2 separate regions of the Homo sapiens genome follow, and region 2 is linked to region 1. Evidence: fine-mapped expression QTL. Tissue or cell type: whole blood. Region 1 holds a variant in brackets; the other region holds the start of a gene. All regions are shown on one strand. Distances are between the middles of the regions.

Region 1 (11,004 bases):
ACATCAGCAGTCACAGGCTCACCACTCACTTTCACCACGATGCAATGTGTAATACTTGTTGAATTTATTATTATTATTTTTTTGAGATGGAGTTTTGCTCTTGTCGCCCAGGCTGGAGGGCAATGGTGCAATCTTGGCTCACCACAACCCCTGCCTCCCAGGTTCAAGTAATTCTCCTGCCTCAGCCTCCTGAGCAGCTGGGATTATAGGCATGTGCCATCACGCCTGGCTAATTTTGTACTTTTAGTAGAGACGGGGTTTCTCCAAGTTGGCCAGGCTGGTCTCGAACTCCTCACCTCAGGTGATCTGCCCGTCTCGGCCTCCTAAAGTGCTGGGATTACAGGTGTGAGGCACTGCGCCCGGCCGAATTGTTTAAACCACCCAGAGCTAGCAGTAAACTCAACATCCTAACTGTCTAATATTTTCTTTCAACATTGCAAACCTTTTGCTTTGACCGATTGTCCTGAAGAGATTTGCTTTGACTATAGTTGCTGAGAGGGATATACTTCTGTGTCTGGTCTTCAGTCCAGGTCATTAGAAATTTCTCCATATCTGATATAGGCCCTCCTAGAATTTTTGTTAGTCTCATTGCTTTCAATAAAGCAGATCCTTCAACAGTTTCTGTGACTTTGTTCTTGTTCATCAAGATTGTAGCTATAGTGAAATGGGACATGCCTGACTGGCGAACAGTACCAATCACTGATTTTCCACTTTGGTAATCCCCAGTTACCTTTAATTGGTCAATCACTTAATGTGGCCTCTTATTGGCAGCATTAGCTGTGAATTTTTAATGATTATGAGCCATGATGAACACAGCATGTTACATCAAGCACAAGAGAAAATAATGCAATCAAGAGATGTGGTAAACATGAGACCTATGAGGCTGCTGCCTGCATAACATGGCATGCTGTTTTATCTATTTTATTAATTAATTATTTATTTATTCATTTATTCATTTGAGACGGAGTCTTGCTCTGTTGCCTAGGCTGGAGTGCAATGGCGCGATCTCAGCTTACTGTAACCTCTGCCTCCCGGGTTCCAGTGATTCTCCTGCCTCAGCCTACCGAATAGCTGGGATTACAGGCATCCACCACCATGCCCAACTAATTTTTGTATTTTTAGTAGAGACAGAGTTTCACCATGTTGGTCAGGCTGGTCTTGAACTCCTGATCTCAGGTGAGCCGGCCACCTCCGCCTCCCAAAGTGCTGGGATTACAGGCGTGAGCCACCGTGCCCGGCCAGCATGCTGTTTTGTAGTACTTTCTTTTATAAGTAGGAGTAAACTCTAAAATAGCAATAAAACTATAGTAAATACATAAACCAGTCACAAAGTCACTTATTATTATTATCAAGTATTAATACATAACATAACTGTACATAATTGTATGTGCTTATACTTTCACATAACTGGCAGTGCAGTATGTTTCTTTACACTAGCATCACCACAAACACATGAGTAATGCATTGCACGTTACCTTATGATGGCTGCAAAGTCATTGAGCAACAGGAATTTTTCAGCTCCATTATAATCTAATAATCACATATGTGGTTCATCATTGACCAAAATGTTATATGCATGACTGTTTATATAATTGGCCCTCCATATCTGCAGGTTTTGCATCCTCAGATTTAACCAATTGACAAATGAAAATATTAACAAACAGAACAATAAAAAATAATATAAGCAATACAGTATAACAACTATTTACATAGCATTTAGATTGCATTATGTATTGCAAATAATGTAGAGATGATTTAAAGTATTTGTGAATATGTGTAGTATGTGTATAGGCTATATGCAAATACTACCCCATTTTATATAAGGGACTTGAGAATTTATGAATTTTGGTTTATGAGGGGTTCTGGAACCAATCCTTCATGTACATATATATATATAAATCTTTATATATATTCATATATATTCATACATATTCATACATATATTCATACATATATTCATATATATATTCATACATATATTCATATATATTCATCTATATTCATATATATATTCTCATATATTCATATATATATTCTCATATATTCATATATATATTCTCATTTATATGTCCATATATATATTCTCATATATATGTCCATATATATATTCTCATATGTATGTCCATATATATATTCTCATATGTATGTCCATATATATATTCTCATATGTATGTCCATATATATATTCTCATATGTATGTCCATATATATATTCTCATATGTATGTCCATATATATATTCTCATATGTATGTCCATATATATATTCTCATATGTATGTCCATATATATATTCTCATATGTATGTCCATATATATATTCTCATATGTATGTCCATATATATATTCTCATATGTATGTCCATATATATATTCTCATATGTATGTCCATATATATATTCATATATATTCATATATTCATATATATGTTCATATATATTCATATATATTCATATATGTTCATATATGTTCATATATGTTCATATATATTCATATATTCATATATATTCATATATATGTTCATATATATTCATATATATGTTCATATATATTCATATATATTCATATATATGTTCATATATATTCATATATATTCATATATATGTTCATATATATTCATATATATGTTCATATATATTCATATATATGTTCATATATATTCATATATATTCATATATACATATATATTCATATATATTCATATATTCATATATATATTCATATATATTCATTATATATTCATGTATATTCATATATATGTTCATATATATTCATTATATATTCATATATACACACATACATTTTATATATACATATGTATAATTTCATATATGCATAATGTATATAAAATGCTATGAGATGGACTTTCTGTTTAGGTTTAGTTTTGTATTTTTGTTTAGGACTACATCGCTTCCTTCTTAAATGGGCACTCACAGAGTAGTTGGTGGCATATGTCATGCACACATGAGAACAAAGCTTCCACTGGCCGGGTATGGTGGCTCACACCTGTAATCCCAGCACTTTGGGAGGCCGAGGCAGGTGGATCGCTTGAGCTCAGGAATTCAAGACCAGCCTGGGCAACATGATGAAACCCCATCTCTACAAAGTATACAAAAATTAGCTGGGCATGGTGGTGTGTGCCTGTAATCCCAGCTACTCAGAGACTGAGACACAAGAATTGGATGAACCTGGGAGGCGGAGGTTGCAGTGAGCCAAGACTGCACCACTGCACTCCAGCCTGGGTGACAGAATGAGACTCCGTCTCAAAAAAACAAAACAAAACAAAAACAAAACAGAGCTTCCACAGATAAGTGCCCAGTGATAGTTAATACCAATAAATACCCCAGGAAGTTAGGGGAAGAAGACATATGTTCTAGTCTGAAGGGGCTCTTAGAGGAGGTGGAATTCAAGCTGAGTCCAAAAGACAGATCATATGTAGTTAGGAGGAAGGAAGGCATGGGAACAGATATGAACAAGCTCAAGCCAAAAGGAGAAGGCACTGAGGTGTAAGAGGGGTGTGCCCCTCCTTCCTGCCTAGCTTGGCCTGTTCCAGTGTGCCCAGCTCCATTTCCAGAGTATGGGTACTCTAGTTCTTCTCCAAGTGCTTTATTTTCATTTTTTTAAGACAGAGTATCTCTCTGTCGCCCAGGCTGGAGTACAGGGGCATGATCTTGGCTCACTGCAACCTCCACCTCCCTGGTTCAAGCAATTCTCGTGCCTCAGCCTCCTAAGTACCTGGGACTACCAGCGTGTGCCACCAGGCCCTCCAATTGCTTTATGATAGCAGCAGGTTCCCAACAATCCCCTCTGTACTCTTTAGGCATGGAATCAAGCAAGCAGCCAACAACGGAGTAGAACCTCCAGCGGGAACCTCTTGGTGTGAGCAGTCCAGGCACTGCCCTGGGCACTGGCATTATGCCCTGTCGCAGAAGTCCTCCACTCTTTCTACAGGCCCTGGTCACCTGCAGACTACATCCCATCAGTTAACAAGCTATTAGGATAGGGTTCTTTCACCAGTTATTAACCTGGAAACAGGTTAATTTTCCATCCTTGATTCCTCTCCATACCTCTCACTTGTCCCTTCTTCTTCTTATTTTTCTCAAATTCCTTTTTACCACATTATTATTTTTTTAGACAAGGTTTCCCTCTGTCACCCAGGTTGGAGTGCAGTGGTGTGATCATAGCTCACTGCACCCTCAACCTCCCAGGCTCCAGCGATTTTCCCACCTCAGCCTCCAGAGTAGCTGGGACCACAAGCATGCCACCATGTCTGGTTAATTCGTGTACTTTTTGTAGAGGCAGGGTTTCAACAAGTTGCCCAGGCTGGTCTCCAACTCCTGAGCTCAAGTGATTTGCCTGCCTTGGCCTTCCAAAGTGTTGGGATTACAGGCATGAGCTACCTTGCCCTGCTTACTTAAAAAAAAATTTTTTTTTAATTTCTACTAGAAGTTAGGTCTGGCTATGTTGCCCAAACAGGTCTCAAACTCCTGGCCTCAAGGGATCCTTCCACCTCAGCCTCCCAAAGTGTTGGGATTAAAGGTATGAGCCACAATATTCAACCCTCCTTAAGCACATACTTTTGTATGTTAGTGATGCTATCTTTCTGACCATGATCATAATTCTGACACGTCTTTGCTAAAGTAGAAAAAAAAAAGCAACAATAGTGAACACTTCAAACACAGCAACTGTTACAGGATCTCTGGGGTGTCAATTTTCTGGCTGGAAACCTCTGTGGCAGGTGGTGCCTTTGCCCGAGTTCTTGTCCTGCATCCAATAAGAATGAGGTAACAGACAAGTGAAGGGTGAATAAGACAAAGATGATCTTTACTAAGTGTTAAAACAGCTCAGAGGAGAGCCGCAGTGGGTAGCTCCTCTCTGTAGGTAGGTTGTCTGTGGAGTGTTCAGCTCTCAGCAGAACAGAGGCCCTGGAGAGGGCTGCTCCTTTCTGCTACTGGTCTTCCCAATGTCTGCTGCTCTCAGCAGAAAGGAGGCCCTGAAGAGGGTTGCTCCTGTCTACAGAGGGTCATCCCACCCCATTGTTTCTCCCTCTCTGAGTCCTCTCCATCCTCTGCCCTGTTCTGACTGAGCCCGGGGCTTTTATGGACCTCAGAGGGGATGAAGTGCAGGCTGATTGGTCCATGGGCAGCCATGGGCAGCCAGAAGAAGCACCATGAGTCCCCACTCCCGTCAGCAGGACTGGCAGCCCACAGGCCTTCAAGTCCTTTTGTTAGGACTACATGTCTTCCTCCCTGGCCTGAAGGTGGAGCCTCACTGGGGATCTGCCCCCTTCCACCCGGGAATCTATCTGTTTCCTTCTGCCATTCTTGGCCCCAGGGCTCAGCCTCAACCCTGCTCCCAGATCACAGTGGGCACAGGGAGTGGAGAGAGGCCAGGCAGGGAGAGCAGACACCGCCAAGCCTGCAGAGACAGGGTGGGGGGGGCCCTTACCGGGGTCCCAGGGGTGCAGGCTGCAAAGACTCTTGGGTCCTGCGCTAACTCTGAAGGGTGCAACTCGGAAGGCGTGGGGCTTCTGCTTGTCTCAGGCTCCTGCCTGCCTGTTCTGTGGAGCCTGGTAGGCCCAGGTCTGCAGCCGTTGAGTCTATGGCCAGAGATTCTGCCTGCTCCTGGGCCCC[C/T]CAAGAACCCAGGGAGGCTCAGATCCACAGCAGCAGTTTGGGCGGTTGCAGCCCCACCCAGGAGAGCAGGGCTTCTGCCTGCTCCGTGGAGCGGGAGGCCTGGGTTTGCAGCTTGCATTCGGGCAGCTGCTGCCGCACTCGGGGAGCTCCCAACTTAACTCTGAAGGGGCGGGGCTCCCCCTGGCTCCATGTAGTGTGCAGCCCCAGCCCCGTGCCTCCTTGCCGCAGCCAGCGTGATGGCAGCAGCCACTGCCATCAAAACCAGTTAATTTCTGGTTGGAGGAGTTCTGCTAAAGGAAAGTACCAGGGTTGCCCTTGAATCTCCAGAGCAGGAAGCCCAGGCCAACTCTTTGGCATTTAGGAAGTGAGGATAAACTCTGACTCTCAGAGGTGGTGTAGTCTCTCCTCCTTGTTTGCTTAGGGTATTTGCTTTATGCTTCTTGGCCTACTCACTGATTGGTTTCTTCCTCTTCCATCTGCACTTGGTAGAAATATTTCAATTCCACTTTGGGAGGCCGAGGCAGGTGGATCACCGGAGGTCAGGAGCTCGAGACCAGCCTGACCAATATGGTGAAAACCCGTCTCTACGAAAAATGCAAAAATTAGACGGGCCTGGTGGTGGGTGCCTGTAATCCCATCTACTTGGGAGGCTGAGGCAGGAGGATTGCTTGAACCTGGGAGGTAGAGGTTGCAGTGAGCCGAGATTGTGCCACTGCACTCCAGCCTGGGTGACAGAGTGAGACTCTATCTCAAAAAAAAAAAAAATATTTTAGTTCCAGCCATGGCTCTCTCTACATGACCTGCCATCTTCATCACTCAACTCTGATTGACTTGTGACTTCCTGCAGCATTTCCTAGAAAATGGAATTGGCCCTGCAGGGGTTAGTGGTTTACCTTATTCCAATCAGCTGTGACCAGGGGAGCATATTTACAGCTATGCACAGGGCTCTTTCACCCTTTTGGCAGGGGTTAGGTGAGGGATAGTTTACACAGAGGATCTGAGCACCTAAGGATTTCTATCAATACAAGAGAACTTGAAGCAGATACTGAAAATTGGTTCCCTTTTAATCACTTTCTAGTTTGGCTCCTTGAAAGTTTAACACCATTTCTCAGACTTCTTTGCAGCTAGGACTGTGCCAAGCAGAAGCTAGATCATGTACAGAGTCCTAGCTGCAAAGAAGTGGAAATCTTGGAGTAATGTGAAGAGGCCACCACATTTGGGGAGATAGTATTTTCGGCAGGCAGGTGGCAGAGGCGACTAGTTCTTCCGGGGCAGCTGTGGTGCAGTTTCCAGCATACAGTCTCTCATGGTATAGGTGCCAAGCAGTGCCTGCTGTGGTGTTTTTCTGAAATAGTTCTCTGTCGTGACTAGTTATTGTTTCTGGATTCTCCTGGCTTTGCGAGGGTAAGCGTCTGGAAACTTTTATGGCAGTTGGATATTGTCACAACATGCAAGCATGTAATTTTTGTGGTTTTAAAAGTATTATTCTGAGACAGAGGTGAAATGGAAAAAAGCAAAATACCCCTTCATCCTTCATCACAGACTGAGAAGCACTGGCTCTCTACTGCTTTTTTTTTTTTTTTTTTTTGAGACAGACTCTGGCTCTGTAGCCGAGGCTGGAGTGCAGTGGCATGATCTTGACTCACTGCAACCTCTGCCTCCTGGGTTCAAGCGATTCTCCTGCCTCAGCCTCCCGAGTAGCTGGGGCTACAGGCGTGTGCCACCATGCCTGGTAATTTTTTGTATTTTTAGTAGAGATGGGGTTTCACTGTTAGCCAGGATGGTCTAGATCTCCTGACCTCATGATCCGCCTGCCTTGGCCTCTCAAAGTGCTGGATTACAGGCATGAGCCTCTGCGCCTGGCCACTGCTTTTGTTCTTGAGCTGAGTGAGCGACTGGGCAAGGTACAATCTCTGTAGAAGCCGCAGAAGGCTCCTGTGCAATGTACACTCTTACAAAACACCTGTACTTGTATAAACGACAAGGCAGGTCTTATTTCCAAAGAAATGTAGAACTGAAAATGATAACTCTTTTTTTTTTTGCAACAAACAAGAGTAGTAAATCATAAATCTGTCCAAATATTAGGACACATTTGAGCCAGGACAATGTCACTGCTTTCTTTGCCATGTAATCTATCTACCCTGGGGTTGGGTTAATACATAAAATGATTTGACCTAGGAGTAATCTACACAGTGCCAAATTGCAGTTATTTAAAGGTGCAAGATATGATGTATTTTAGCTGGGATTGCACTGTATGGTGTCTTTGCATGTGTGTACACATACATAAAGTTTTATGTTCCATAAAAGCATGGAAAATTGATGATGGCATTTTTAGCAAACATGAAACAATGTGCTGTTGCTGCAAATACAAAGCCTTCCTCCAGGAGAATTCTAAAATGGATATTATTATATTTTTATAATGCTTATCACCACCATTAGAACAAGACCGTTTTGGAATATATCATTCAACAGCTGGCCTGCCATGTGCTGGCTGAATAAAATCATGGGACTCAGGCATAAAAGGAGCAATTTCCTACATCATTTTTGTTGTTGCTCTTTTTTAGTCATAAAAACAGACTAGATGATCATTCAAAATATACTCTCAGAAGGACAGGAATACTTCATTTTGTGCAAATAGTTAGGTTCCTGAAAAAAATTGTATGGGTTAATTTTTCCTTCTATAATTGAGTGCCATTTTGTACACATGAGAAAAAATACATTTTAAAGACAATTCTGAATCTTTAAAAAATATAATCACCCTCAATTTTTATGACAAAATATTTATTTCTTACAAATAATCTAAGTAATAAATGTAGATGGTTAAAAAATAAAAATATCATTAATATTATAATAAAAAGCAAGTCACCTAGCTGACATTCCTCTTCCACTAGTCCCATGTCTCTGGAGTTGACCCTTTTTACTTTTCCCGCCTTTGCATCTTCTGAAGATTGTTACCATAAATTGCAACAATATGCCTTTACAGTTGTTTATTGTTTTACTAACTGAGACATTATATGACTGATTTCCTACTATGATAGATGAAGAGTCAGCTCACTTGCAACCCTCTCAGTCTTATTCTCTAGCCTCTTCCATTATCAATGTTATCAGTTCCTCCAATGGTTGTCTCTGTAACTTCAAATTTATTTCATTTCTTAGTCCTTTGACCTAAGAACCTTATAAAAGCAATTCCTCTTAGGGTCCCACTATTTCCTCTATTGTTTTAGAACTGGCTAAGTATTTAATAGAATGTTCTTCAATTTGAGTTGGCCTGATGTTTTCTCACGATTACATTAAGGTTATTCATTTTGTTTAACTTTTATTTTAAGTTCAGGAGTACATGTGCAGGTTTGTTATATAGGCTAACATGTGTCATAGGAGTTTGTCATACAGATTATTTTGTCACCCAGGTATTAAGCCTACTACCCAATAGTTATTGTTCCTGATCCTCCTCCCAGCCTCCACATTCTGATAGGCCCCAGCGTGTATTGTTCCCCTCTATGTGTCCATTTGTTCTCATTATTTAGCTCTCACACTTATAAGTGAGAAAATGTGGTATTTGGTTTTCTGTTCCTGTGCAAATGAACGTACACATGTGTGTGTCTTTATGGTTAGAATGATTTATATTCCTTTGGGTATATACCCAGTGATGGAATTGCTGAGCTGAATGATAGATCTGTTTTTAGCCCTTTGAGGAATTACCACACTGTTTTCCACAATGGTTGAGCTAATTTATACTCCCACCAACAGTATATAAACGTTCCCTTTTCTCTACAACCTTGCCAGCATCTGTTTTTTTTTTTGTTGTTGTTGTTGTTTAGTTAGACGGAGTCTTGCTCTCTTGCCCAGGCTGAAGTGCAGCAACGTGATCTCAGCTCACTGCAACCTCCGCTTCTCAGGCTCAAGCGATTCTCCTGCCTCAGCCTCCCAAGTAGCCGGGATTACAGGTACTTGCCACTATGCCCAGCTAATTTGTGTATTTGGTAGAGACGGGATTTTTGCCATGTTGGCCAGGCTGGTCTCAAACTCCTGACCTCAGGTGATCCGCTCACCTTAGCTTCCCAAAGTGTTGGGATTACAGGCGTGAGCCACCATGCTGGGCTATTTTGACTTTTTAATAGCCATTCTGACTTGAATGAGATGGTATCTCACTATGGTTTTGATTTGCACTTCTCTAATGATCGGCGATATTAAGCTTTTTTTCATATGCTTGTTGGCTGCATATATGTCTTCTTTTGAAAACTGTCTGTTCTTGCTCTTTGACTACTTTTTGTTTTTTCCTATACATTTGTTTTAGTTCCTTATAGGTGCTGGATATTAGATCTTTGTCAGATGCATAGTTTACAAATATTTTCTCCCATTCTGTAGGCTGTCTGCTTACTCTGTTGATAGTTTCTTTTGCTGTGCAGAAGCCTTTAATTAGATCTCATTTGTCAATTTTTGCTTTTGTTGCAATTGCTTTTGACGTCTTCATCATGAAATCTATGCCTGTTCCTATGTCCAGAATGGTATTGCCTAGGTCGTCTTCCAGGGTTGTTATAGTTTTGGGTCGTACATTTAAATTAAGTCTTTAAGGCTGGGCGCGGTGGATCACGCCTGTAATTCCAGCACTTTGGGAAGCTGAGGTGGGCTGATCATCTGAGGCCAGGAGTTGGAGACCAGCCTGGCCAACATGGAAAAATCCCGTCTCTACTAAAAAAAATAGACGAATTAGCTGGGCATGGTGGTGTATGCCTGTAATCCCAGCTACTCGGGAGGCTGAAGTAGGAGAATCGTTTGAACCCAGGATGCAGAGGTTGCAGTGAGCCGAGATCATGCCACTGCACTCCAGCCTGGGCGACAGAGGGAGACTCCATCTCAAAATAAATAAATAAATAATAAAGTAATTAATTAATTAAGTCTTTAACCCATCTTGAGTTAATTTTTGTATATGGTATAAGGAAGGAGTTCAATTTCAATCTTCTGTGTATGACTAGCCAGTTATCCCAGCACAATTTATTGAATAGAGAGTCCTTTCCCATTGCTTGTCTTTGTTAGCTTTGTCAAAGATCAGATGTGACATCACCTACAGACATGTATGTAGGTATGTGGCATTATTTCTGGGCTCTCTATTCTGTTCCATTGGTCCATGTGATTGTTTCTGTACCGGTACCATGCTGTTTTGGTTACTGTAGCCCTATAGTATAATTTGAAATCAGGTAGTGTGATGCTTCCAGCTTTTTTCTTTATGCTTAGGATTGCCTTGGCTATTTGGGCTCCTTTTTGGTTCCATACGATTTTTAAAATAGTTTTTTCTAGTTCTGTGAAGAATGTCATTGGTAATTTAATAGGAATAGCACTGAATCTCTACATTGCTTTGGGCAGTATGACTACTTTAACA
Region 2 (11,004 bases), 22 kb before region 1:
CTGTGTAGACAGTGTTTCAAGTCTTAAGCTAAAATTTCCCCATAATTTCACTACCTCTATTTCATTTTTTACCACATTAATTCCTGTTTTGCAGTAGTAAAAAGAAGCTCCGTAATAACATTATTAACACATTTTCTAGTCACATTTTCAAGCTGGATGTTCGAAAGATTGTAACATATAAGTTGTATAAACTAGACTCCATTCCATTTTTTTGAAAGGCAAAACCTAAATGCATAAAAATTACTTAAAATGCTGAAGAAAATAAATCCCTTTGGTTTTATTCCATGAAGGGTACCACTACCTCTTTTATTTTGCTGTCTCCATAGTTAATGCCTTATAATGTGAAATCTAACAAAAGCAAAGGATAACAAGTGACAATGTAAAATTCATGTCTAAAGAAGTATGAAAACAAAAATTTCTTTTCTGCATGTCAACACTCAAGACAAAGTTCATATGTTTCTTAGCATATATATTATAAAAATAAGCCACCATGAATTTTTTTTAAAAAAATTGTTTTACTTCAATGTAAACACTGAAGGAGGATCCTTTTAAATATTCTTCTAAAGATTTTTATCTTTGCTACCAAATTTATGTTTTCAGAAGGACCAGGAAACAAAGTTTAATAATGAAGATAAGTGGGCACTTCCTTCAGACTTTGTTCTGGAATTTATCTTGTGTACATTATGCAAACAAGTTGATAAAGGGAGAGCACAAGAAAATGTTCAAGTTGGGACTGGGCACGATGGCTCACACCTGTAATCTCAGCACTTCGGGAGGCCAGGGCAGGCGATGCACTTGAGGCCAGGAGTTTGAGACCAACCTGGGCAAAATGGTGAACCTCATCTCTACAAAAAATACAAAAATCAACCAGGCATGGTGGTGCATGCCTGTATCCCAGTTACTCGGGAGGCTGAGGCATGAGAATCACTTGAACCTGGGAGGCGGAGGTTGCACGGAGCCAAGATCGCGCCTTTGCACTCCAGCTTGGGCAACAGAGCAAGACTCTGTCTCAAAAAAACAACAAAAAAAAAATTACTTCAAAGCACATGGATTATCATCTTCAATCCTGCCTGCCTTATCAAGACATGATAACTTTTTAGAGAAAAACAACTTCAGTGGCCACTCAATTATACAGCACTTACTGCATGTCAGGCACAGTGTTTCTCACAACAGCCCCATGAGATAGAGACACTTATAATACCCATCTTCCAGTTGAGGAAACCAAAGTACATATAGAGAAAATAACTGACTAAAGGTCACATGGCAAGTGTTGGAGTCAGGCTTCAAACACAGGCATTAGGGTTCCAAAGGATTTCCTCTTGCTGGAATTCTGTGTTACCTCTCTAATACTATACTTCCAAGAATGAAGGACTTCCGTGTAAAGAATGAACATACTGAGCAACTGTGAGGCCTTATGTCGAATGAATTTGGAAATAAGAATGTCCTCAGAGACCAGGTGCAGTGGCGGTCGCCTGAACCCCAGGGCTTTGGGAAATGAACCTGTGGGAGGATCACTTGCGAGCAAGAGTTTGAGATCAATCTGGGTAACATAGTGAGACTCTATCTCTACAAATAATTTTTTTTTTTAATTAGCCAAGTGTGGTGGTGTGCACCTGTAGTCCCATCTACTCTGAGGCTGCAATGAGCTATGATCGTACCATTGTACTCCAGCCTGGGTGACAGAGCAAGGCCCTATCTCCAAATAAATGAATAAATAAGAATGTCTGCAGAGTTAAAGGAGCAACTGAAATTGACCCCAGTCATAGGTCTGCCAAATCAGCTTATGGAGACTGAATGTTCCAGGATATTAAACTTTTTGACAACCAGATAAAGGTATTAACTGTTATTCTCAAGTGGACACTGGTAAGCCATGGCAATGTGGAAAAGGCAGTGTCCCAAAATCAGGGACCAGCAATGCTAGGCAAGCACCATGCAGTGGAGGGGCACTCTCTCGGCTGACTCAAGTGTATGATGCCTACCAGGAGACAGACAAATCAGGCCTCCAGCCTGACAATCTGTGATGTTATCTACCCCCATGTGGTTTGATTACAGTGAGAAAGTGCCTAGAGCAGACCTCACAAATATCCAGTCTGCCTGACAGTTATATTTCTAACTAAAAATTATGCTAAGTCTGATGAATAGACTTGGGTGTATATCAGGGTGAATCAGCTTTCTTAGCTGTGATCAGATATGGAGCAGTAGAAAGACTGAATTTCTGGAGTCTAGCCCTGCAAGGCCGAGGGCCAGATTCTGAACCAGTTTTACCAATATACATACCATATTATGAGTCTCTCAGCAGCCAACCCTAAAAGAATGTCTGCAGAGTTAAAGGATCAACTGAAACTGACTCCAATCATAGGTCTGCCAAATCACCTTATGGAGACTGAATGACTTCCAAGATGTTAAACTTTTTCAGAACCAGATAAAGGTATGATTTATTTCTCTAGTGACCACCTGACTTCTCTATACATACCACTTAGAAAAAATTATATAAGGACCTTCTAAAATCAATTATGGGGCTTTTGGTCTGGAAAGATAAACGCAACACCATATGTCTGAAATCATAGCTTGAAAGATTTGGCTAGAATGACTGTGCAATTATTTGTCAACTTCTGGAATAATAAAACTATAGAGTAACCTTTACAAATTGAAGAATATGCAAGAATTAACTAAAAGTGTCCGGGCATGGTAGCTCACACCTGTAATCCCTGCACTTTGGGAGGCTGAGGCGGGCAGATCACCTGAGGCCAGGAGTTCGAGACTAGTCTGTCCAACCTGTTGAAATCCCATCTCTACAAAAAATATAAAAATTAGCTGGGCGTGGTGGTGTGTGCCTGTAATCCCAGCTACTCGGGAGGCTGAGTCAGGAGAATTGCTTGAACCAAAGAGGTGGAGGTTGCAGTGAGCCGAGATCACGCCACTGTACCCAGCCTGGGGGGAAAATAAAAATAATAGGAAATAATAGTAAAAAAAAAAAAAAGTAAAATTAAAAATTGAAGAAGTTGTTTTTGGATAGATAGATGCATATGAGTGGATATAAAATCCATTCCAAGGGGATGGACATGCAATCCCTTTAGTGTTTACTGAATTCCTACTAAGTTCAGGGTACTGAGCTGGGTACTTCAGAGAACACATGACAAGTGAGAGGTAGCAAGTCCCAGTTCTTTACTCTTTGGTTGTTCGCAGGCTAGTAGAAGGGTAAAGACAAAGACCCAAAAAGCCTCAAGGGAAAACAGATTAATGTGGGTAGGACAAAGGAAACAGAGATCTCATCTGCTGAAATAGTGTGGCATCACCAGATGTCCTTAACACCTAGGTAAGTAAGAATCCTTTCCAGATTGCTGGGCATGGTGCTGTCAGGATCACTTCATCTCAGAAATGTCCTTACTTTCTGCCTTGGCTCCAGAACCTCCAAGCATGGAGTCAGCTTCCTGTTGGAGGAACTGTTTAAGATGCAGTTTCTTACAAGGTGGTACCTTCTTGAATAAATAGTGCTCCATCTTCAGAAAAACAACGCCTGTCTCACTCCTCAGGCTGCCCCCTCCACCTACAAAAACACTTAATCTCACTCGTCCAAAAAAACAGAAAAGGAATAAAGATTTTAGCCAGCATTCCAAACACAAAAGCTACCTCCACTTTTGGGACCCTCCCCAGCCTCCCCCAGGTACCTCTGAATGAGCTGTCTCCCTAGACTAGAAGTAGACACCAAGGCCACCTCCATAGTTTAGGCAAAGAACACAGAAAATCACGAGTCAGGAGCCTGTGGGTACATCTGATCCCACAGACTGGAAAGATTTAAGATTGAAGAGTGATAACTAAGCAAGTCTCAAAAACGAAGGCTCTTGATGATGGAAGGTAGTGTAATAAGAATCAGTACACATATTTAGGAAGGGGCATCCTCCCCCAAGCCCCACCCTACTCTTGTACAAGGTCAGCACAGAAAAGGGGATTATGAAATAAGACAAAATTAATTCTCTTATTATTACTTTAGAATTCTTTCAAGTCCCTTAGTTACAGTTCATAATCTTCACCTCCTTAGGAACGGAAATCATAAATCCAAGGCTTTTTAATTTAATTTAATTTAATTTTGGCAAAGGATGTAGATTTGCATGAATACCTGTAGAGATAAAACCTGTTTTTCCAAGAGGGAAGTAGTTAAGAAAATGCCCTCTGGCATCCCCTAACTCTGTCTTATTTGCTGTGTTATCTTTATGCGAATTACTTCTGATCAATCTCACTTTTCTCATCTGCAGAATGGGGAATATAATCCTATTTAGGATTATATATTAAAAAAAAAAAAAAAAAACTGCCGGGCGCGGTGGCTCATGCCTGTAATCCCAGCACTTTGGGAGGCCGAGGCAGGCGGATCGCCCGAGTCAGGCGTTCGAGACCAGCCTGTCCAACATGGTGAAACCTCGTCTCTACTAATAATGCACAAATTAGCTGGGCATGGTGGCTGACGCCTGTAATCCCAGCTACTTGGGAAGCTGAGGGAGGAGAATCGCTTGAACCCGGGAGGCGGAAGTTGCAGTGAGCCGAGATCACACCATTGCACTCCAGCGTCGCCCACAGAGAGCGACTCTGTCTCAACAACAACAACAAAACCAAAAGGCCCTTAAGCCCACTGCCAGGCACGTATCAAACTGACAATCGTGCAATCGTGATTTTAAGCCAAAGTCAATGTAAATTTTTAAAACACAAAACAAATGGCAAGCCGGAACCATACCTCCCTACAATCTGGATAAATATATTTAGATGCCCATTGGCTGGAGTTTTTAAGACCAGCCCAGGCTCTGTGGGCCAAGAATCGGCGCAGGAGCGAACCGATTTGTTGGCCAAGAATTCGGGCCAAAACTTGTAAAGTTGGCAGACGCACTCGCCATGCCCTTCTCAAGTGCCCTCGCTGCGCAGCCGCAGGGCTGGAGCGAGACCGCCGGCCGGAGGCGCGTTTCTCTGAGTTCACCCAGGAACCAGACGCCCGCTGGACGTCAACTCGGCCGGACGCGGGGCACGGGCGCTAACAGGCTCCTAGGAGCCTCCCCGGGCGCCCCCCGCCCAGGGCGCGCTCTGCTCACCTGCAGGTTTCGGCGGCTCCGCGGTGACTAACAACAGCGGCAGCAGCAGCAGCAGCAGCAGAAGCGGTGGCGGCTGTGGCAGCCCCGGGCGCCCGCCCGGACCGCCGCGGGTCATCGCTCCACGGCCGCGACCTTCCTCTGCGGGATCAGGCGGCCGCGGTGGCCCGCGGTGGCAGAAGTTGCAAGAGAGGCTCCTGGCCTACTCAGGGGCGCCGCCTCTCCGAGGTGGGGCGTCCTCAACTTTCCTCTTTCTTGAGCCCGGCCTGCTCCGGGCTCTGAGGGGCGAGGACGCTTCACGTGGTGGCCTGGGGCCCACCCCGCCTAGGAAAGGCGGATCCTTTACGTCTGACCCTCTAGCAACCCCTGGGCCGGTCTGGGAAAGTTCCCCAGCTGCACTTCTGGGAAATGCAGAGGCTGCCTGCCGCTTTCTTTCGCAGTTTTGCGGCCCAAGGCTTGGGCGAATCAGTTCACATCAACACCCCTACTAGCCTCTCCCTCCGGGGTCGACCATTTATCTCCAGCAGCGGACCAGGCGCCCGGGCCAGGGTGACATGCGCGCCCTGCCTACACGCAGCTCGGATCCTCTGCTGTTTCTGGAGAGGCCTCCACAGGTGCGTTTTCCTCAGCGATTAGCGTACCCCTCATTCCCAGGCTGTTTAACCTAAATCCATGCGCTGTAGCTCAGATTTTTTATCCTTTTTGCTTCCTCTTCGTTGGCTGGAGCCACCACAGGAGAGTGATTCAGACGGGGCTGACACTAGACACACTCCTACGTTTCTGTGGAGTCCCCATTTCTGTGTGGGGTCAGTTAAAAGTGACATTGTGAAGTAGTCAAAAGTTATGCCTTGGGTGATATTGTGAAGTTGGCACCGGGTGCCCTAGGTGACATTGTGAAGTAGGCAAAAGGCATTTCATTCATTCACTCAGCATTGGCTGGGCCCATCTTATACTCCAGATACCAGTGATATAAAGACAGCTAAGAGCATGCCTCACCACAGACAAAAAGAACTAAGCCAGCCGGGCGCCGTGGCTCACGCCTGTAATCCCAGCACTTTGGGAGGCCGAGGCGGGCAGATCACGAGGTCAGGATATCGAGGCCATCCTGGCTAACACGGTGAAACCCCGTCTCTACTAAAAATACAAAAAATTAGTCGGACACGGTGGCGGGCGCCTGTAGTCCAGCTACTTGGGAGGCTGACGCAGGAGAATGGCGTAAACCCGGGAGGCGGAGCTTGCAGTGAGCCGAGATCGCGCCACTCTACTCCAGCCTGGGCGACAGAGCGAGATTCGTCTCAAAAAAAAATAATAATAATAACAATAATAATTTTTTTAAAAAAGAACTAAGCCATATAGATAAACAAGTACACAGAACTTGCCATTCTACTGTGTTAGAGCTATGTTTAAGGTGCAGTGGGAGAGGGGGAAGGAGGGAACAAGCCACCTCTCAGATGGGAACCTCAGCACCCCACTCTTCCTCTTGGCCTTTCTTCTAAGCTTAACCTAGGTGTCAAGGAGAGATGAGAAGAGAGAATAAGCAGTACCTTTCATAACGGGGAAAATGTAATTGTTAGAAAAGATAAAGAACCTAAAAGTTCATCAAATCTCTGTGCAAATTGTGAAACACAAGTCACAATTTTGTGGTCCAGGCACCATGGCTCATGCCTGTAATCCCAACACTTTGGGAGGCCAAGGTGGGAGGATCACCGGAGCCCAAAAGTTCAAGACAAGCCTGTGCCACACAGGGAGACTCCAACTCATTTTTATTTAATTAAAATTAAAGTCACAATTATGTTTAATGGCATTTAATGAATGAAGACATCGAGGACATTGTAAAAGTTGCACATTTTCCTTCAAGTTAGAAAATTAAAATGAAGAAAAATTAAAACGAAGACATCGAGGACATTGTAAAAGTTGCACATTTTCCTTCGTTAGAAAATTTAAATGAAGAAAAATTAAAATGAAGACATCGAGGACATTGTAAAAGTTGCACATTTTCCTTCAAGTTAGAAAATTAAAATGAACCAAAAATGAAAATTTTGGTTGTGTTATGATGGGAAGAGAACCACATTAGGATGTTCAAGGAAGTGGTGCCACCCCAAATATTTGAGTCATATTGCCCTATACCACCCTCCTTCACCTTACTAACCCTTCTGATCCAAGGAGCCAAGTGTTCTGATGAAGTAAGATGCATATAAATGCCTAATGTGAACCTTGAGGCATTCATTCATCTATTATTTGTCATCAAATATTCGTTGACTCCCATGTTCCAAGCACAGAGCAGTAGACAAAACAAAGTCCCTGCCCTTGCAGAGCTTGCATTCCAGTAGTGGGGAGCAAATTATACATATAAACAAATTAATTGGATCAGGACTTCTCCACATCAGCACTATTGAAATTTTGGAGCAGACAACTCTTTGTTGTGGGGGGGTTGTCCTGGACACCCCTTGGCCTTTACCTACTGGATGCTAGTGGCACCCCCATTGAAAATGTCTCCAGACATTGTCAAATGCTCCCGTAGGGGGGCAAAATTGCCCCCTAGTTGAGAATCACTGAATTAGATGATAAATCTTGCTTTCTTTAAATTATGCCAGTTTTACATATCTGGGAGGAAAATGAGCTGCAAAACTCACACATAGTTAGGAAAATAAATCTTGGGACCCCAAAATCACTAAGCCAAGGGAAAAGTCAAGCTGGAAACTATGTCAGGCAAACCTGCCTCTCATTTTATTCTGAAATAAGATAGCTACAAAGATAAGAAGCTACATACCTCCCTCACAGTTTGCCCACAAGGAAATTCCCTGTGGACAAAGGGAAGACAGAACTTAAAAGTCATCCCTCTGAGGCTCACCTGAGACAAATGCACATCTGATTGCTTCCTCTGCAGTATTGTTTATGTAAAAATGCAGACTCCCTGGGCCAGACTAAGTTGTGTATTCTGTGGAAGGCTGATCAAGGATTCAAAAGAATGTAACATTTTGTCTCTTTTCTACTTCTAACATGGAATACCCCACTTTGAGTTGTCTCGCCTTACCATACTGAACCAATGTACATCTTACACGTATTGACTGATGTCTCATATCTCCCTAAAATGTATAAAAGTAAGCTGTACCCCGACCACGTTAGGCACATGTTGTCAGGACCTCCTGAGGCTGTGGCCCTGGTGTGTCCTTAACTTTGGCAAAATAAACTTTCTAAATTGACTGAGACCTGTCTCAGATTTTTTGGATTCACATACTAAAGCTGCAATGAGGAGAACCAAAGATGCCAGCTGCGAAATGTTCTCATCACTTCTATAATGGACTTGTGTGGTTTGGGGCTACTCAGCGTCCATTATTCTCTTCCTGTACCAACTTTTGGTGCAGGAATGCCAACTTTTGGTGAGCCAAGGGTGGAGGTGTTTCTACCAGGAGACACAATAAGGAAGTATTATTGAATTGGAATTTGAAAGTGCATTACTGAATTGCAATTGGTCTTTTTTGAGCTCCTCTTAAAACATAAAAATATGTTTGAATGGTTAAGAATAGGATTGTAGTATTGGTAATTTTGCCTTACTATCAAAAGGAGTAGGAGCATTGGATGCGGTGGCTCACTCCTGTAATCCCAGCACTTCAGGAGGCCGAGTTGGGTGGATCACTTGAGATCAGGAATTCGAGACTAGCCTGGCCAACATGGTGAAACCTCGTCTCTACTAAAAATACCAAAAATTAGCTGGGCATAGTGGCTCATGACTGTAATCCCAGCTACTTGAGAGGCTGATGCAGGAGAATCAGTTGAACCCAGGAGGCAGAGGTTGCAGTGAGCTGAGATCGCACCACTGCACTCCAGCCTGGATGACAGAGAGAGATTCCATCTCAAAAAACCAAAACCAAAACAAAATGAAAGGACTGGGAGCATAATCTCACCTGGGAAGCACCACTGGGGACTCAGACTCCTCATCCCAATGGGCAAAGAATCCCAGCAGCTGAGTTGCTGGCCCAAAGCAAGGGGAACATGGAAAAAAGGTGGAGAAGAGAAGTCACATATAATTATCTATAGCCAGGTGACCAGTTGCAGAAACAAAGATAGTGGTCTCTATTGGCCTCTATATTTCTTTCCTTGCTGTAACATGTATGTGGTGGATTGAAAATTTTACAGTTACAGTTCCAGAATGAAATATCCAAAATGTAAATTTGTTTCTTTTCCAAAAAAGTGTAATTAACTTAGCATTCAAACACATCCACTGATGGTAATTTTTTTTTTTTTTTAATTTTTTGTAAGACAGGATCTCACTATGTTGCTCAGGCTGGTCTCAAATTCCTGGGCTCAAGTGATCCTCCCACCTTGGCCTTCAAAAATGCTGGGATTACAGGTGTGAGTCCAACCAGTAAAAATTTTTAAATACCAGATTTAAGGTTGCGCAATTTCATTTGGACCAAATCCTTAGTGTCCTTTGCCTTCTTTATGTCCTTACCATTTTTCCTTAAGGATGACCTTAGCTTCGGGGGCTTATGTATTGACTTGGTACTAAATAAGGGACATTTACTCTGTGAGTCATACTCTTGGCTTAGTGGCCTCCACTAAGATATAGCTTTTTTTCTCATTCGGTCTGCAGGAATTGTAGTGCATAGGCATCTGCTGTTGGTATCTGCAGCTTTACCTTGACCTCGGATTTAGATTTCCAGATACTCTGTGTATTAGTTAATGTAATGCTAGCTATGATGACAGATAAACTCCAAAAGTTCATTGGATTAATGCAACAAAAGTTTATTGGTGTCTTGTATGCCAGTCCAGTGTGGGAGTTCTTAATCAGTAAGTGGCTTTCCTCCATGTAGAAATTTAAGAACCCACCTATCTTTCATCTTGTGGCTCTGTCATTCTCTAAGGCAGAAGTTCCCATGCTTTCTTGGTTTATAGTGCCCGTAGAGTGTCAGTAATATATTTTTAGGGCTGCAGACCAAAAGAAATACCTAACAGTTCTTTTTACTAAGTAGTTAGAGCCACACAATGCAATAGTAGTCATTTGCTCAGTATCCTACAGATGGTGCTACATGTCCCTCAAACATTTAAAGTATCCCAGAGAGCTCCGTTGATTGATTATAGTGTATTGTGCTACTACTGTTTCCCATGAGTATTTACTATATTCTCAGGTACACTCTGTGCATTCACTGTGGTTGCCAAACTGTGTGCGGGAACCATAATGCTATGGAGTCTTGTCTTCTGGCGATGGGAAGAGAAAAGCACCCCTCACCCCTGCTTCTTCTTTTTTTGTTTTTATTTATATATATATATATATTTTGAGATGGAGTCTCACTCTGTCGCCCAGGCTGGAATGCAGTGGTCCTATCTCGGCTCACTGCAATCTCCGATTCCCGGGTTCAAGCGATTCTCCTGCCTCAGCCTCCCTAGTAGCTGGGTAGCTGGGACTACAGGTATGCACCACGATGCCTGGCTAATTTTTGTTTTTAGTAGAGATCAGGTTTTCTCATGTTGGCCAGGCTGGTCTAGAACTCCTGACCTCAGGTGATCCACCCACCTCGGCCTCTCAAAGTGCTGGGATTACAGGCATGAGCCATCATGCTTGGCTGCACCCCTGCTTCTTAATAACTTCTGCTTACCTTCCATTGGCAGAGCTAGACATATTGCCCTATCTTTATGCTAACAAGACTGGGAAATGCAGCCTCTACCTGGGATGTCATTGCTCGGTATGGAAGTAAGAGCGCGCATTTCTGGTAGGCAGCCAGCTGTTTCTGACACACTTGGCAACCTCTTCATCCTGACTTGGATACTCTTGGGTCGTTTGGCTCATTCTCAAACCCCTCTGAGCCCTGCGGGAGTGGCAATAGGGCCTGAAAGCTAGTCTGATCTAGTGTGCATCAATTAATGAGCCAGCCATTGGGTTCATCTCCCCAAACATCTCCCTCAGTTATTGCTACTTTACAACTCAGGTGCC

Evidence for each region. PIP is the estimated chance that this variant, and not a neighbour inherited with it, causes the effect.
Region 2: it holds the start of PLBD1, and the variant in region 1 is fine-mapped to the expression of PLBD1 in whole blood (INTERVAL, PIP above 0.99). The same link has a PIP of 0.9 or more in neutrophils.

Annotation. Positions count from the first base shown.
Region 1 is chr12:14,584,014-14,595,017 of GRCh38, forward strand. The region is part of intron 2 of PLBD1-AS1 (PLBD1 antisense RNA 1); the gene reads left to right. Among named protein-coding and RNA genes, the nearest start is that of PLBD1, 22 kb to the left of the region's middle. The variant C/T (reference allele first, on the strand shown) is at 5,628.
Region 2 is chr12:14,562,507-14,573,510 of GRCh38, forward strand. It overlaps PLBD1 (phospholipase B domain containing 1), which reads right to left and starts at 5,377. Exons shown (of 11, transcript NM_024829.6): 1 at 5,076-5,377. The coding sequence starts at 5,190. PLBD1-AS1 (PLBD1 antisense RNA 1) reads left to right here and starts at 5,226. Exons shown (of 6, transcript NR_120465.1): 1 at 5,226-5,300; 2 at 5,513-5,686. RefSeq lists silencers at 4,222-4,398, 5,138-5,247 and an enhancer at 4,643-5,324.